Homo sapiens: one gene and its partners. The protein of the gene in region 1 purifies or fractionates together with the protein of each later gene. This does not show direct contact. Each region holds a gene or a part of one and is shown on either strand. Other genes may lie near its edges.

What was found. Proteins that work in one complex are often made in the same cells at the same time.
Region 2: the proteins of COPG1 (region 1) and WDTC1 purify together in Homo sapiens (co-immunoprecipitation; one large-scale study listed by IntAct). This does not show direct contact.
Region 3: the proteins of COPG1 (region 1) and ATL3 purify together in Homo sapiens (affinity purification with mass spectrometry, with the first as the bait; one large-scale study listed by BioGRID). This does not show direct contact.
Region 4: the proteins of COPG1 (region 1) and ZNF2 purify together in Homo sapiens (co-immunoprecipitation; one large-scale study listed by IntAct). This does not show direct contact.

What each region holds. Positions count from the first base shown.
Region 1 is NC_000003.12:129,263,106-129,266,605, forward strand, and holds part of COPG1 (coatomer subunit gamma-1), read left to right. Parts: intron 1-798; coding exon 799-894; intron 895-2,443; coding exon 2,444-2,687; intron 2,688-3,500. UniProt on the Homo sapiens protein: The coatomer is a cytosolic protein complex that binds to dilysine motifs and reversibly associates with Golgi non-clathrin-coated vesicles, which further mediate biosynthetic protein transport from the ER, via the Golgi up to the trans Golgi network.
Region 2 is NC_000001.11:27,237,632-27,241,131, reverse strand, and holds part of WDTC1 (WD and tetratricopeptide repeats protein 1), read right to left. Parts: intron 1-3,500. UniProt on the Homo sapiens protein: May function as a substrate receptor for CUL4-DDB1 E3 ubiquitin-protein ligase complex.
Region 3 is NC_000011.10:63,664,877-63,668,376, reverse strand, and holds part of ATL3 (atlastin-3), read left to right. Parts: intron 1-3,500. UniProt on the Homo sapiens protein: Atlastin-3 (ATL3) is a membrane-anchored GTPase that mediates the GTP-dependent fusion of endoplasmic reticulum (ER) membranes, maintaining the continuous ER network. It facilitates the formation of three-way junctions where ER tubules intersect.
Region 4 is NC_000002.12:95,175,809-95,179,308, reverse strand, and holds part of ZNF2 (zinc finger protein 2), read right to left. Parts: intron 3,122-3,500; 5' UTR 3,083-3,121; coding exon 3,050-3,082; intron 1,827-3,049; coding exon 1,700-1,826; intron 1-1,699. UniProt on the Homo sapiens protein: May be involved in transcriptional regulation.

The DNA.
Region 1 (3,500 bases):
TGGTGCCTGAACCGGCGGGAGTAGGAGAGGTGGGACAGTGCAAGAGCTTTTTGAGGGATAATGCCTGTTGGCAGGGTTGGTGTGAGGGTTGAGGGGTGGATGTCAACAGAGATGATGCCATTTTCTACTTTGAGCTGACAGTGGTGCTCTTGACTAGTTTGCAGGGGAGGAAAAGATGGGGTATTGGATGAGGGAGGGGGAAGGAGATGGAGATGTTTGTGGTTGCAGACATGTGGAGTTTGAAGTGCTGTGGGCGCCAGGTGGAGTTGTCTGACAGGCAGTTGGAAAAGGCAGGTCTTAAGCTCAGACAGGAGATAAATATTGGGAGTCAGTGGCATATAAGAGGCGGTTAAAGCCATGGGAGGGGATAAGATTGCTGAAGAGACTGTGAGAAGAGAAGCGGCCAAGGACAGAATACCCCAGAGACAGGCTTAACCAAAAAGGAGCCAGAGGAGATGATGGGTGGGAACCATCAGTGGGAGCCAGTGGTAGGGAGAGAAGCAGGACAGGTTGGGTGGAGGGGACTCGGAGACTTAAGAAGCCTGAGTAGAAGAGCAGAGTTTGGGGAACCCAGAGTCTGAGAGTCTGACACTGGGGCTGTTGGCACTGCCTTGGGTGGGCTCAGGGATTGTGCCCTTCAAGCTTCAAGCGTGGAGTTGAGTTCCTCTGGTCTCCTTGCCCTTGTGTCATGCCCAAGGCCTGGCCTTACCTAAGGAAGGACTCAGTGGGCACTCAGGGAACTGAGTCACCCCATCTTGGTGGCAGGGCCTGCTGCTCATGCACGTCTATTTCATTTAGGTGGTGGTTGTCCAGGCCATCAGTGCCCTGTGTCAGAAATATCCTCGCAAACACGCCGTCCTTATGAACTTCCTGTTCACCATGCTGCGGGAAGAGGTAAGAGTCAGGGGCATTCGGGGGATGCCAGGTCTCCTGGTGCAGGGAGTGACCTGACCACTGGCTCCATGCTCAGCTTTGTGCGTGTGCTTATGTTAGCCTGTTAACCAACTGGTTTTCATGGTGCCTGCAACCCTTTAAACTCCTTGTGGACATGTAAACACGTACCAATTGCTAGTAATTACAGTAATAACTATGACTCACCAGCCTGACTTTAAAAACTGGATGTCCTGAGGTGATGCTTGTGCAGAAGATGGGAAAATGCATGTTCTTTTCTGGTGGACTCTAGTGCAGAAATATTCTAGACCATTCCAGGAGCTCTAGGAGTGGTTTCTTGTGAAACCGGTGCTAATAATACGACATTGGTTCTATTTCTGTTCCCGACGTGAATTACTGATTCACTTATGCCACCTTTCTTGGACGTCTCAACAAAATGGGTTAATTCTTAGGAGCAATAGCAGATGTTCATGGAGTAGATTTGTTCCTCAGATACATGGTACCCCTTTCACCCAGCCCCAGAGTGGCCCATGGACTAGGCAGTAGAGGAGCCATTGCCTTGAGTGTCTTTGCGTTTCCCAAGAATGTTGTTGTAGAAGGGCACTAATGTTTAGTGAGTTGTCAGCTAATGGGCCCAGCACTTTGGTGATTGTGTTTGTTTTTTTTAAGTAGAGATGGGGTCTTGCTGGGTTGCCCAGGCTGGTCTCAAACTCCTGGCTATAAGTGATCTTCCCACCTTAGCCACCCAAGTTCTGGGATTACAGGTGTGAGCCATCATGCCTGGCCAGGCCTAGCACTTTGGAGACACTGTATGCATGATAGCAGTTTTTTTTTTTTTCTGTTGAGTAGGAGTCTCGTTCTGCTGCCCAGGCTGGAGTGCAGTGGTGAGGTCTTGGCTCACTGCAACCTCCACCTCCTGGGTTCAAGTGATTCTCCTGCCTCAGCCTCCCGAGTACCTAGGACTACAGGTGCCCCCCACCACGCCCGGCTAATTTTTTATATTTAGTAGAGACAGGGTTTTACCATGTTGGTCAGGCTGGTCTCAAACTCTTGACCTCAGGTGATCCACCCACCTTGGCCTCCCAAAGTGCTGGGATTACAGACGTGAGCCACTGCGCCCGGCCTCCATCTGTCACCCAGGCTGGAGTGTGGTGGTGTGATCACGGCTCACTGCAGCCTCAACCTCCTGGGATCAAGCAATCGTCTCACCTCAGACCCCCAAGCAGCTGGAATTATAGGCATGCACCACCATGCCCAACTAATTTTTCTATTTTTTGTAGTGATGGGGTCTCTCCATGATGCCCAGGCTGATTTCGAATTCCTGAGCTCAAGTGGTCCACCCACCTCAGCCTCTCAAAGTGCTGGGATTATAGGTGTGAGCCACTGCACCTGACCAGCCTTTTGTTTGACAGGAAAGAGTGATAGAGGCCCAGAGAACCAAGTGCCCTGTCTCCAAGTTCTGTGTTTGGACAACTGTCCTTGGTCCAGCTCAGGTCTTCAACTCTTTTCTGGAGAGAGCAGGCTCCTTGCTTAGCTCAGCTTCTCTCTGCAGGGTGGCTTTGAGTATAAGCGCGCTATCGTGGACTGCATCATCAGCATCATTGAAGAGAACTCAGAGAGCAAGGAGACAGGGCTGTCACATCTGTGCGAGTTCATCGAGGACTGCGAGTTCACAGTGCTGGCCACCCGTATTCTACATCTCCTGGGCCAGGAGGGGCCCAAGACCACCAATCCCTCAAAGTACATCCGCTTCATCTATAACCGAGTGGTCTTGGAGCATGAGGAGGTCCGGGCAGGTAGGTCTGAGCCAGGGCTGAACTTGGAAACTTAGCTTACCCTTGAATAAATGTCCCAGCAAAGGGACCTGAGCCTCCAGTGGGGATTTGTGCACTCAGTGTTCTTGCTGCACAAGCTGTTTTTCATAATATTGTAGGCAGGACCTTACATGTCATCTAGTTGAACAGTTCTTTGTTTTTTGTTTTGTTTTTTTTTTTGAGATGGAATCTCGCTCTGTCACCAGGCTGGAATGCAGTGGCGCAATCTCAGCTCACTGCAACCTCCGCCTCCCGGGTTCAAGCGATTCTCCTGCCTCAGCCTCCCGAGTAGGTGGGACTACAGGTGTGTGCCATCATGCCCAGCTAATTTTTGTATTTTTAGTAGAGATGGGATTTCACCATGTAGGCCAGGATTGTCTCGATCTCTTGACCTCATCATCTGCCCGCCTCGGCCTCCCAAAAGTGCTGGGATTACAGGCGTGAGCCACCGTGCTCGGCCATGGTTCTTAACCCCTATAATTTTTTAAGTATTTTTTTAATTGAGACGGGGTCTTGCTATGTTGTCCAGGCTGGTCACGAACTCCTGGGCTCAAGCTATCCTCCTGCCTCAGTCTCTGAAAGTGCTGGGATTACAGAGCCACTGTGCCTTGCCTTAAGTGATTTTTTTTTTAACTTTCACTGTATGTTGATGTTTAGCTAAAAAACAAAAAGCTTTGTTGAGATATAATTCACATGCCATAAAATTCACCCATTTATATAAAGTTTACAATTCAGTGAGCAACCTTCCTATTCTTTATTTTTAATTTCTTTTCATGCCCCCACTGGACAGATTTT
Region 2 (3,500 bases), on another chromosome or scaffold:
AAATACAAAAATGCCAACGGTGACCCTCAAATCTGGCTCTGCAGTAGTAGCTGAGAATTTTCTTTGCACAGGGCCTCTGACACTGCCTCCTATACACTCTGGCCTTTTGACTGCATCCTCCCCTTATTCAGGCTTAAAGTTTTTTTGTTTTTTTTTTTTGAGATGGAGTCTCACTGTCACCCAGGCTGGAGTACAGTGTTGCGATCTCAACTCACTGCAACCTCCACCTTCTGAGTTCATGCGATTCTCCTGCCGCAGCCTCCTGAGTAGCTGGGACTACAGACACCCGCCACCACGCCAGGCTAATTTTTGTATTTTTAGTAGAGACAGGGTTTCACCACCTTGGCCAGGCTGGTCTCAAACTCCTGACCTTGTGATCCGCCCACCTCAGCCTCCCAAAGTTCTGGGATTACAGGCATGAGCCACTGCGCCCAGCCCAGGCTTAAAAGTTTTTAAGGTATTAGTCTTCAATGCCACAAAGCCCTTCAAGGAGTCAGCAGCTATTACTTAATAGCTCAAAGAATGGGCCCTAGAACTCTCAGAGTTACACATAGGCCTGAATTTACCCAGAAGAAGCCAACTAAGTGGTATTCCTTTACATCCAAGCCCTGGCTCTTGAGGGCAATCAGTGAGGTCTAGTAAAAAGGATATATTTCATCATTTAGTCCTCAAAAACCCACTAAAAAGTAGGTACTACAATAAGCCTCATTTTATAGGTGAAACTATAGCTCTGAGAGGATACATGATTGGCCCTAGGTCACAGAGCTAAGGAGGAGACATGGGTTCAAATATCAGCCCTACACTACTAGTTGTGTAACCTCCAGCATATTCCTTAACTTTAGTCTAGAGTCTCAGTTTCTCATTTGTAAAGTGGGGATAATGGTAATACCTTCCTTCCAGGGGAGCTCTGAAGATTATAAGAGACATTATAGAAAAAGTAGAGCTGGGCCTGGTGGCTCATGCCTGTAATCCCAGCACTTTGGGGGGCCAAGGTGAGTGGATCACCTGAGGTCAGGAATTCGAGACCAGCTTGGCCAACATGGTGAAACCCCATCTCTACTAAAAAAATACAAAAATTATCCAGGCATGGTGGCGCGCACCTATAATCTCAGCTACTCAGAAGGCTGAGGCAGGAGAATTGCTTGAACCTAGGAGGCGGAGGTTGCAGTGAGCAGAGATCGTGTGCACTCCAGCCTGGGCAATAAGAGCAAAACTCTGTCTTAAAAAAAGAAAGAAAAAGTATCTAGCAAGTGCCTGGTATATACTAAATATTCAATACATGTTAGTTTTTTTGGGTTTTTTTGGTTTTTTTTTTTTTTTTGAGACAGAGTCTCACTCTGTCCCCCAGGCTGGAGTGCACACGATCTTGGCTCACTGCAACCTCTGCGTCCCAGGTTCAAGCAATTCTCATGACTCAGCCTCCCAAGTAGCTGGGATTACAGGTGTGCACCACCACGGCTGGCTAATTTTTTGTATTTTTAGTAGAGACAGGTTTGCCATGTTGCCCAGGCTGGCCTCCAACTCCTGAGCTCTGCCCACATCAGCTTCCCAAAGTGCTAGGATTACAGGCATGAGCCACTGCACAACTGGCTTTTTTTTTTTTTTTTTTTTTTTGAGACAGGGTCTCTGTTGCCCATGCTGGAGTTCAGTAGCGCAGTCTTGGCTCACTGCAACCTCTGCCTCCTGCACTCAAGTGATGCCCCCGCCTCAGATTCCTGGGTAGATGGGAATACAGGCACATGCTACCACACCTGGCTAATTTTTAAATTTTCTTTTTGTAGAGACTGGGTTTCACTATGTTGCTCAGGCTGGTCTCAAACTCCTGGGCTCAAGCAATCCACCCACCTAGGCCTCCCAAAGTGCTGGGATTACAGGTGTGAGCCACCGTGCCAAGCCATGTTAGGTTTTACAGATCAAACAGACAGGGAGGCTGGGCATGGTGGCTCACACCTGTATTCCCAGGACTTTGGGAGGCTGAGGTAGGCAGACTGCTTGAGCCCAGGAGTTTGAGACCAGCCTGAGCAACATAGTGAAACCCCATCTCTATGAAAAAATTAAAAAATTAGCCAGGCGTGATGGCACACACCTGTCTTCCCATCTACCCTGTCTCATAAAAAAAAAAAAAAAAAAAAAGCCAGGAGCGGTGGCTCATGCCTGTAATCCTAGCACTTTGGGAGACCGAGGCAGGTGGAACTCAGGAGTTCAAGACCAGCCTGGGCAACATGGCAAAACCCTGTCTCTAATAAAAATACAAAAAAATTAGCCGGGGCTGGGCGCGGTGTCTCACACCTGTAATCCCAGCACTTTGGGAGGCTGAGGCGGGCGGATCACCTGAGGTCAGGAGTTCAAGACCAGTCTGGTCAACATGGTGAAACCCCATCTCTACAAAAATACAAAAATTAGATGGGCGTGGTGGTACATGCCTATAATTCCAGCTACTTGGGAGGCTGAGGCATGAGAATCACTTGAACCTGGGAGGCAGAGGTTGCAGTGAGCCGAGATCATGCCACTGCACTCCAGCCTGGAAGATGAAGTGAGGCATGGGAATCACTTGAACCTGGGAGGCAGAGGTTGCAGTGAGCTGAGATCATGCCACTGCACTCCAGCCTGGATGACGAAGTAAGACTCTGTCTCAAAGAAAAAAAAAAGATGTGGCAAACTCTCTGCTTGAATATCTGCAATGATGGGTAACTCACTCCCTCACAAGGCAGCCCATTTTGTTTTTAGAAAGCTACATTATCTCCTATCAAACCAAAGTCTACCTTCTTGGAAATTATGTCATTTAATCCTGAGATGCCTTCTAGAATCACAGAGAACATCCAGTTTCCTTTCCCCATGACAATCTTCAAGTATTTGAATGAGGTATCATGTTCCCCCAGGCTCTTAGCCTTGGTCTTTTCAGTTCTTCTTCATGTGTCACAGTCCCAGAGGCAATTCAATATCACAGAGCAGAGAGACCTGGGTTTGAATTCCAGTCCTTCCTCTTACTTGCTGTGTGACCTTAAGCAAATAACTTAATTTCTCTGAATCTGTTTCTTCATAGGTATAATAGGGAAAATGATTCTCACCTCACAGGACAGTCATGAAGGTTACACTGGATAAAGTAAAAATACTAGCTAGCACTGAGCTCAAGATATACCAGGCCCTGAATAAAATGTCAGTCACTTTTTAGGACATATCCCAACTGGCAAATACCTCTCAAAGTAAATTAACTACACCAAGGAACTGGCTTCTTTCTTTTTTTTCTTTTCTTTTCTTTTTTTTTTTTTTGAGATGGAGTTTCACTTTTGTTGCCCAGGCTGGAGTGCAATGGCACGATCACAGCTCACCGCAACCTCCACCTCCTGGGTTCAAGCGATTTTCCTGCCTTAGTAGGAAAATCCCTCCTGAGTAGCTGGGACTACAGGCGCGTGCCACCATGCCCGGCTAATTTTTTTTGTATTTTTAGTAGAGATGGGGTTTCACCGTGTTAGCCAGGATGGTCTCAATCTCCTGACCTC
Region 3 (3,500 bases), on another chromosome or scaffold:
AGCACCCACCCCTCCACCACCAGAAGGAACCACACCCAGCAGTTCTAGAGTTGGCTAAGGTCTTAGTATACTTACTCTTGCCTGTGATGATGTTTTCTCTGGCTTTGTCAGTTAGAAACCTTAAAGACTGCCAGCAAGAACAAGGCATGAAAATGGTATGCCTCTGTTTTGGGTGTGTTGCTCTTGCCCTTTGGAGAATATGATATTTTATAAGGAGACTGGAAAACTCAGGTCATAACTTTACCCTGAGTCATACATGAATCTACTCAGCAAAGTGTTTCTGTGACTGGTTGGTTACTTTGTATTCAGAACTCTTTGAATGGTAAGGATAAACACCAAGGCTGACTCTACTCAGTGGTTCTTAACCTATGGTAATATTGCCTCTTCCTGCCCCTGGAGCATTTAGCAATGACTGGAGACGTTTTTTGGGTGTTAGAACCTGTTGTGGGGAGTGTTACTGGTATCTAGTGGGTAGAGGCCAGGGATGCTGCTCAATAGCCTGTAGTGCGTAGGATAGCCCCCCACAACAGTTGTGCAGCTCCAATGTCAATATGTCAGTAGTGCTGAGGTTGAGAAACCCTAGTCTACACTGTCATTTTTTTTTTTTTTTTTTGATACAGAGTCTCGCTCTGTCACCCAGGCTGGAGTGCAATGGCGCGATCTCAGCTCACTGCAGCCTCCATCTCCCAAGTTCAAGTGATTCTCCTGCTTCAGCCTCCCGAGTAGCTGGGACTGCAGTCATGCACCACCACGCCTGGCCAATTTTTTTGAATTTTCAGTAGAGTCAGGGTTCCACTATATCGGTCAGGCTGGTCTCAAACTCTTGGCTGCAAATGATCCATCCGCCTTGGCCTCCCAAAGTGGTGGGATTACAGGCGTGAGCCATTGCACCCGGCCCACTTCTCAGGAATCCTAAACTCTTGGGAGGCTGAGGTGGGAGAATCACTTGAACCTGGGAGGTGGAGGTTGCAGTGAGCAGGAATGACGCCACTGCTCACCAGCCTGGGCGACAGAGCAAGAATCTGTCTCAAAAAAAAAAAAATGCTTTCTAATTATACAAAGATTTTCAACATTTTCTACATACTTGAACTGATGAGTGATAGAATATTATCATGAGCTATTTACAGCAATGAAGTAGTCCCCATTATCTGAGGGGCATATATTGTAAGGCCCCCAGTGGATGCCTGAAACTGCTGATAGCACTGAGCCCTGTATACACTACGTTGATCAGTGAGAAGGCTACTAAATAACTAATGGGCATGGTAGCATATACAGTGTGGATACTCTGGAAAAGGGAATGATTCATGTCCCAGGCAGGATAGCACAAGATTTCATCATGGTACTAAGAACTGCGTTGCAATCTTAAGACTTACGAATTGTTTATTTCTGGAATTTTAAACATATGTTGTAAATTCACATAAATACATATGAATGATAGATGTAACAGTGGTCCAGCTGTAGCTTTGTGTCTGTGCAAAAACATCACGTTATCCATATTCATGTAAGTAATGTAATACAGCATTAACTGTTGTTGCAGTATGCAGAATTAGACCTTGGAAAATAATTGCTTCTCTAAAGGGACAAGGCATGTAAAGTTGCCACTTACAGATATTTTTAGTACCCTCCCCGGAGACTAGATCTCCAGAGTTTAAGATTCCTGACAAGTGGACCGGGCACGGTGGCTCATGCCTGTAATCCCAGCACTTTGAGAGTCTGAGGTGGATAGATCACTTGATCGCACGGTGTGCGATCCACCCCCCTCGGCCTCCCAAAGTGCTGGGATTACATGCATGAGCCACCACACCCAGTTAGCACTTGACCCATTTTAGTGATGAAACTGAAAACTAGACATGCCCAGGATCACACAGGTTGTTAGTGGCAGGGCTGGAACAGGAACTTGTGTTTTGAGTCCTAAATTTGTATATTTCCACAGGTTACTTCTGAGAGTAAGCAGGTGAATCTGTCCCTTAGGCAGTTGTACATTTAGACTAAATGCAAGTTAGAGATCTGTGAAGTTGTATCATCCAAATAGAGGGTAGGCCGGGCGCGGTGGCTCACGCCTGTAATCCCAGTACTTGGGGAGGCTGAGGCGGGTGGATCACCTGAGGTCAGGAGTTCGAGACCAGCCTGGCCAAGGTGGTGAAACGCCACCTCTACTAAAAATACAAAAATTAGGCGTGGTGGTGGGTACCTGTAATCCCAGCTACTTAGGAGGCTGAGGCAGGAGAATTGCTTGAACCCAGGAGGCAGAGGTTGCAGTGAGATGATACTGGGAGGCTGAGGTGGGAGGATTGCCTGAGCCCGGTAGGTTGAGGCTGCAGTGAACCATGATTGCACCACCGCACCTCTAGCCTGTGCAACAGAGTGAGACCCAGTCTTAAAAAAGGTGTAATATATAAGCAGCTCCATTTAACTTGCATTATTGGTGTGTACAGCTCAAAATAATTCTTCCCTTACATAAGCCCAAACCCAAGGATCACTGTCAGTGAACAACATCTTTTTTTTTTTTTGAGACAGGGTCTTGCTCTGTTGTCCTGATTGTAGTGCAGTGGTTGACTTACTGCAACCTCTGCCTCCCAGGTTCAAGTGATACCAAGTAGCTGGGATTACAGGCGCGTTACCACCAAGCCTGGTTAATTTTCATATTTTTAGTAGAGATGGGGTTTCGCCGTGTTGCCCAGGCTGGTCTCGAACTCCTGATCTCAGGTGATCTGCCTGCCTCAACCTCCCAAAAGTGCTAGGATTATAGGCGAGACCTCCCATGCCTGGCCAACAAGATCTTTTTTAATCTGGTGGGTGTTGATAATCATGCTTATATTACTGGTGTGAAGAGAAATGCAGAATCACCCCAGCTCTTCCAACTAAACAGAGCCTGGTTCCCTTCCTTTATTCTTGGGTACCGTGCTACAGGGAGAGGAAGAGATGAGTAAGGACTTTTCCCCCATAGCTGTCCTCAGTAGTCTTCAGCTTCTCTTGAAGTGCAGTTCACTGTACACAACTGTATACATTCTTCTTTTTTTTTTTTTTTTTTGAGATGGAGTCTCACTCTGTCACCCAGGCTGGAGTGCAATGGCTTAATCTCAGCTCACCGCAACCTCCGCCTCCCGGGGTTCAAGCGATTCTCCTGCCTCAGCCTCCCGAGTAGCTGGGATTACAGGCATGTGCCACCACGCCCAGCTAATTTTGTATTTTTAGTAGAGACAGAGTTTCTCCATGTTGGTCAGGGTGGTCTTGAACTCCTGACTTCAGGTGATCCACCCACCTTGGCCTTCCAGTGTTGGGATTGACAGGCATGAGCCCCCATGCCCAGTCTCAACTGTATACATTCTTATCATTGGATTACCCCATCTTGTAACCACGTAACTTTATCTTCCATGTCTACTGCTCTGACAATGCCACTTGGATCCTTTGGGTTGTAGCCTTCAACCACATTATGGTACATGTCATTCATTCATTTTACAATAGTTTATTGGCCGGGTGCGGTGGCTCACGCCTGTAAT
Region 4 (3,500 bases), on another chromosome or scaffold:
TAAAAACTGGATAATGAGGCTGGGCACAGTGGCTCCTGCCAGTAATCCCAGCACTTTGGGAGGCCGAGATGGGTGGATCACCTGAGGTCAGGAGTTCAAGACCAGCCTGGCCAACATGGTGAAACCCTGTCTCTACTAAAAATACAAAAATTAGCAGGGCATGGTGGCCCATGGCTGTAATCCCAGCTACTTGGGAGACTGAGGCACGAGAATTGCTTGAACCCTGGAGACAGAGGTTGCAGTGAGCCGAGATTGCATCACTGCACTCCAACCTAGGCAACAGAGTGAGACTCTGTCTCAAAAAAAAAAAAAAAACAAAAAAAACCAAACCTGGATAATGAAATGACGCTGATTTGTAAAGCTGATTTTTTTTCACACAATAAATTTAAAATACCATTTTATTTATATCAGTACTGATCTACCTCACCATTGTAATGGCTACGGGATATGACATTGTATGGATAACATAATTTATTTAATGAATTCCCTTATGATAGAAATTTAGACCATTTTTAACGTTTTGCTATTAACAAACAATAGTGTGATGAACATCTGCATACACCATGGACTACTAGTCCTATTATTTCCTTAGGATAAATTCCCTGAAGCAAATCTATCCATTTTTGGTTATATTAAAAAATAGATCCTGGAAATAGGCTTGGGCTCTAAACTTCCCTTTTGCTGAGGCCCCAACTTGGGAAAGAGGCACTTTCTTATTGGGCCCAAGGATTGTCTACCGGGTTTTCTGTGGATTCTCTGTTGACAAAACGGCCACACCCAGCATCTCCCTGTGGCTCTCTGTCCCTGACCTCAGGGGTTCTATTTTCCTCAATATGCCATCTACTAAAGCCTGTAACAAATGCTCCTTTGATGCCTCCTGAATATTCCATTCTGTTTGGGAGACAATTGGCCTGATTAAGTTAATCTGGGGGGTGTTAGCACTTACTTTTTGACCTGCCTCGTAGGAAATCTGCAATGTGACTCCTTTTACTGCCATCTGCTGCTTATTTTAAGCCGGTTTCTCAATCTGGGCACTCTCTCAGCCTCTCGTGAAGCTCCTGAAAGGTTCTCATAACCTCCAGGAGCCCAACTTTACTTTTCACTAACACCAGAATCAGCAGTGACTCTTAACTTTCTCTTTGTCACACAAGTCTCTATAATTACAAAGTGTCTTCTGTGAGCATCTAAGACTGTACCTAAGACAAATATTCAAAATCAAACATATATCTGGTGACCTCAGAGGCACAACCCTGAATTCCGACAAGATGGCCCCCTACCCCAGCGCACACTCCTCTGGGTGAGCTGAGTTACCTAACTGGCGAACTGGGAGAACTGGGCATATGAAACTCAGCGTCTTCTGCCTGCCCCTCTGGAGCGCCAGCTCCCTGCCTCTAACACACATTCCGCTCTGTCCCTCAGCCCTCGCTGGCCCTCCCTGAATTTTGCCGGGCAGGCTGCTGAGCGAGAGAGCCTATGGTCATCCAGCACTGCCCATGGCTGGGGAGGCATGTCTGCCCAATGCTGGGGTTCAGTATTGAGCCCGCCGTTGCTGTACTCTGATGCCACATCTTTCGACTCTTACTTTATCTCTCAGGTGGCTCAGAACTCAGCGGGGAGGAGAACGGTATTAATTCCTCAGCCCTCTCAGCCCCACATTAGCATAGTACAGACTGTACCTCCTCATGGAGGCTCCCCTTACCCAATGACACAATGCTGTTATAGTTCTCCAGCATCACCTCCTTGTAGAGGTCCCTCTGTATGGGGACCAGACGACTCCACTCTTCATCTGTGAAAACCACGGCAACGTCTTCGAATGTCACTGATTCCTGAAAATACAATCACATTCTCCCTTACTCTTAATCCTTCTCTTTACTTGGACCAGACCAAAAATGTCAAAGATGACAGCCCTGGAGGACGCATGGTGGGAGGAAAGAAAAACAGTTCTGACTGAGTAGAACTTTAAAGCATTTGGGAAAAGTGGCCTCATCACCCAAGACATGAAGTTCTTGGTCAGAATCTCACACCACTATACTTACAGCTGAGCTTCTGAATATCAGACTCTTTTTTCAGACTTCTAAAAACAGCACAAAAAAATTCCTGTGTACCCTTCACCTGGCTTCCTCAACTGTCAACATTTTCCACATTTACTTTATTTTTCTGTCTCTCTCTAGATACACATTCTCCTATCTTTTTGTTAGGCCTCTTGACTAACTTGTCAACATCATGTGTCTTTAATCCTAAATATTTCAGTGTGTATTTTGTAAAAACAAGGATGTACTGTTGTTATAATCACAGTATAACTATAAAAAATGGAGAAAATAGCATTGATCTTATACTATTATCTAATCTACAATCTTACTCAAATTTCACCAATTGTCTTTTTTTTTTTACAAATCCTTAGAATAATGGTGTTGATTAGATCATCTGTAGGATCCCTCTCATTTCATTCTAATGCTCTGTGATTCTGTAAGATTGCATCTCTTTACCTTCAGTTCTAAAACCTCAGATGAGTCTCCAGTGTGTCTGCAAAAGTTCTAGGCCAGGATGCAGAATTTAAGACTCTGCCCTCGGGCAGGAATGGAGCAAGCCACACAGTCTCTAGCACAGGAGACTCTCTTCAGGGCTCTTAGCACCCCACAGAGGTGCTCTACAGTGTGTATCACACGCCCCAGCCTAGCCCCACACTCCCTGGAACACTGGAGCCTCCTCTCAGTCCACACATGAATGTACCAAAGGGACTGTCAGGACCAGAACCAGCCCACTATTCCCCAAACCTTCCAATCAGACCCTACCATTGGCTTCTAGGCAAAATCACTCACAGTGAAGGCTCCAGGAGTTGTTAAGCCTGGTGACAAGCTAATGGGCACATGCTCACAGCAAGAAAAGGTCACTAAAGGATACCTCAAGTCAAATAGGAAAGAAATACTCCCTGTGGAGTCCTTCATCTGCCTGGCTGGGTCTGCTCAAAGAGGCTCCAGGATAGAGAAAGAAAAGTGGTTACATTCTGGAGATGAATGGAGTATTTCGGGAACACAAAAGTCCACCTCACCTGGCATCTGGTGGTCGGAGACACAGCAGCCATTCTCTCCTGTGTGCTCTCCTTGTGGACAAGGGCAGAGTCCTAATGAGGCAGAAGTGGGGGGTGAGAAAGAAGGTAGGAGAAAGACCAGTCCTGTCGCATAGTCTTTTGACCCATGAAGCACATACCAGGGGGATATGTCATCCTCAATACCTTACAAAAGGGGGTCTAAGTAAAGCAAAGCCAGGAACAATCCCAGACCACCCCAGAATTAGAGCCAACAACCATGGAACTGCGAATTAGACCACAATGTGGTGGTGGTTTTTACCACGATGCTAGAGGCAGAGTTCTGTTCCTGAGAGTCAAGAACTGTGTAAGATTCACACAGTACGTAAAAATTCACATTCAATATTGCCCTGAATGATTACTGGGCAAAAGCCATTAGCAATTTTATAAATGACTACATGGACAAGACATATCA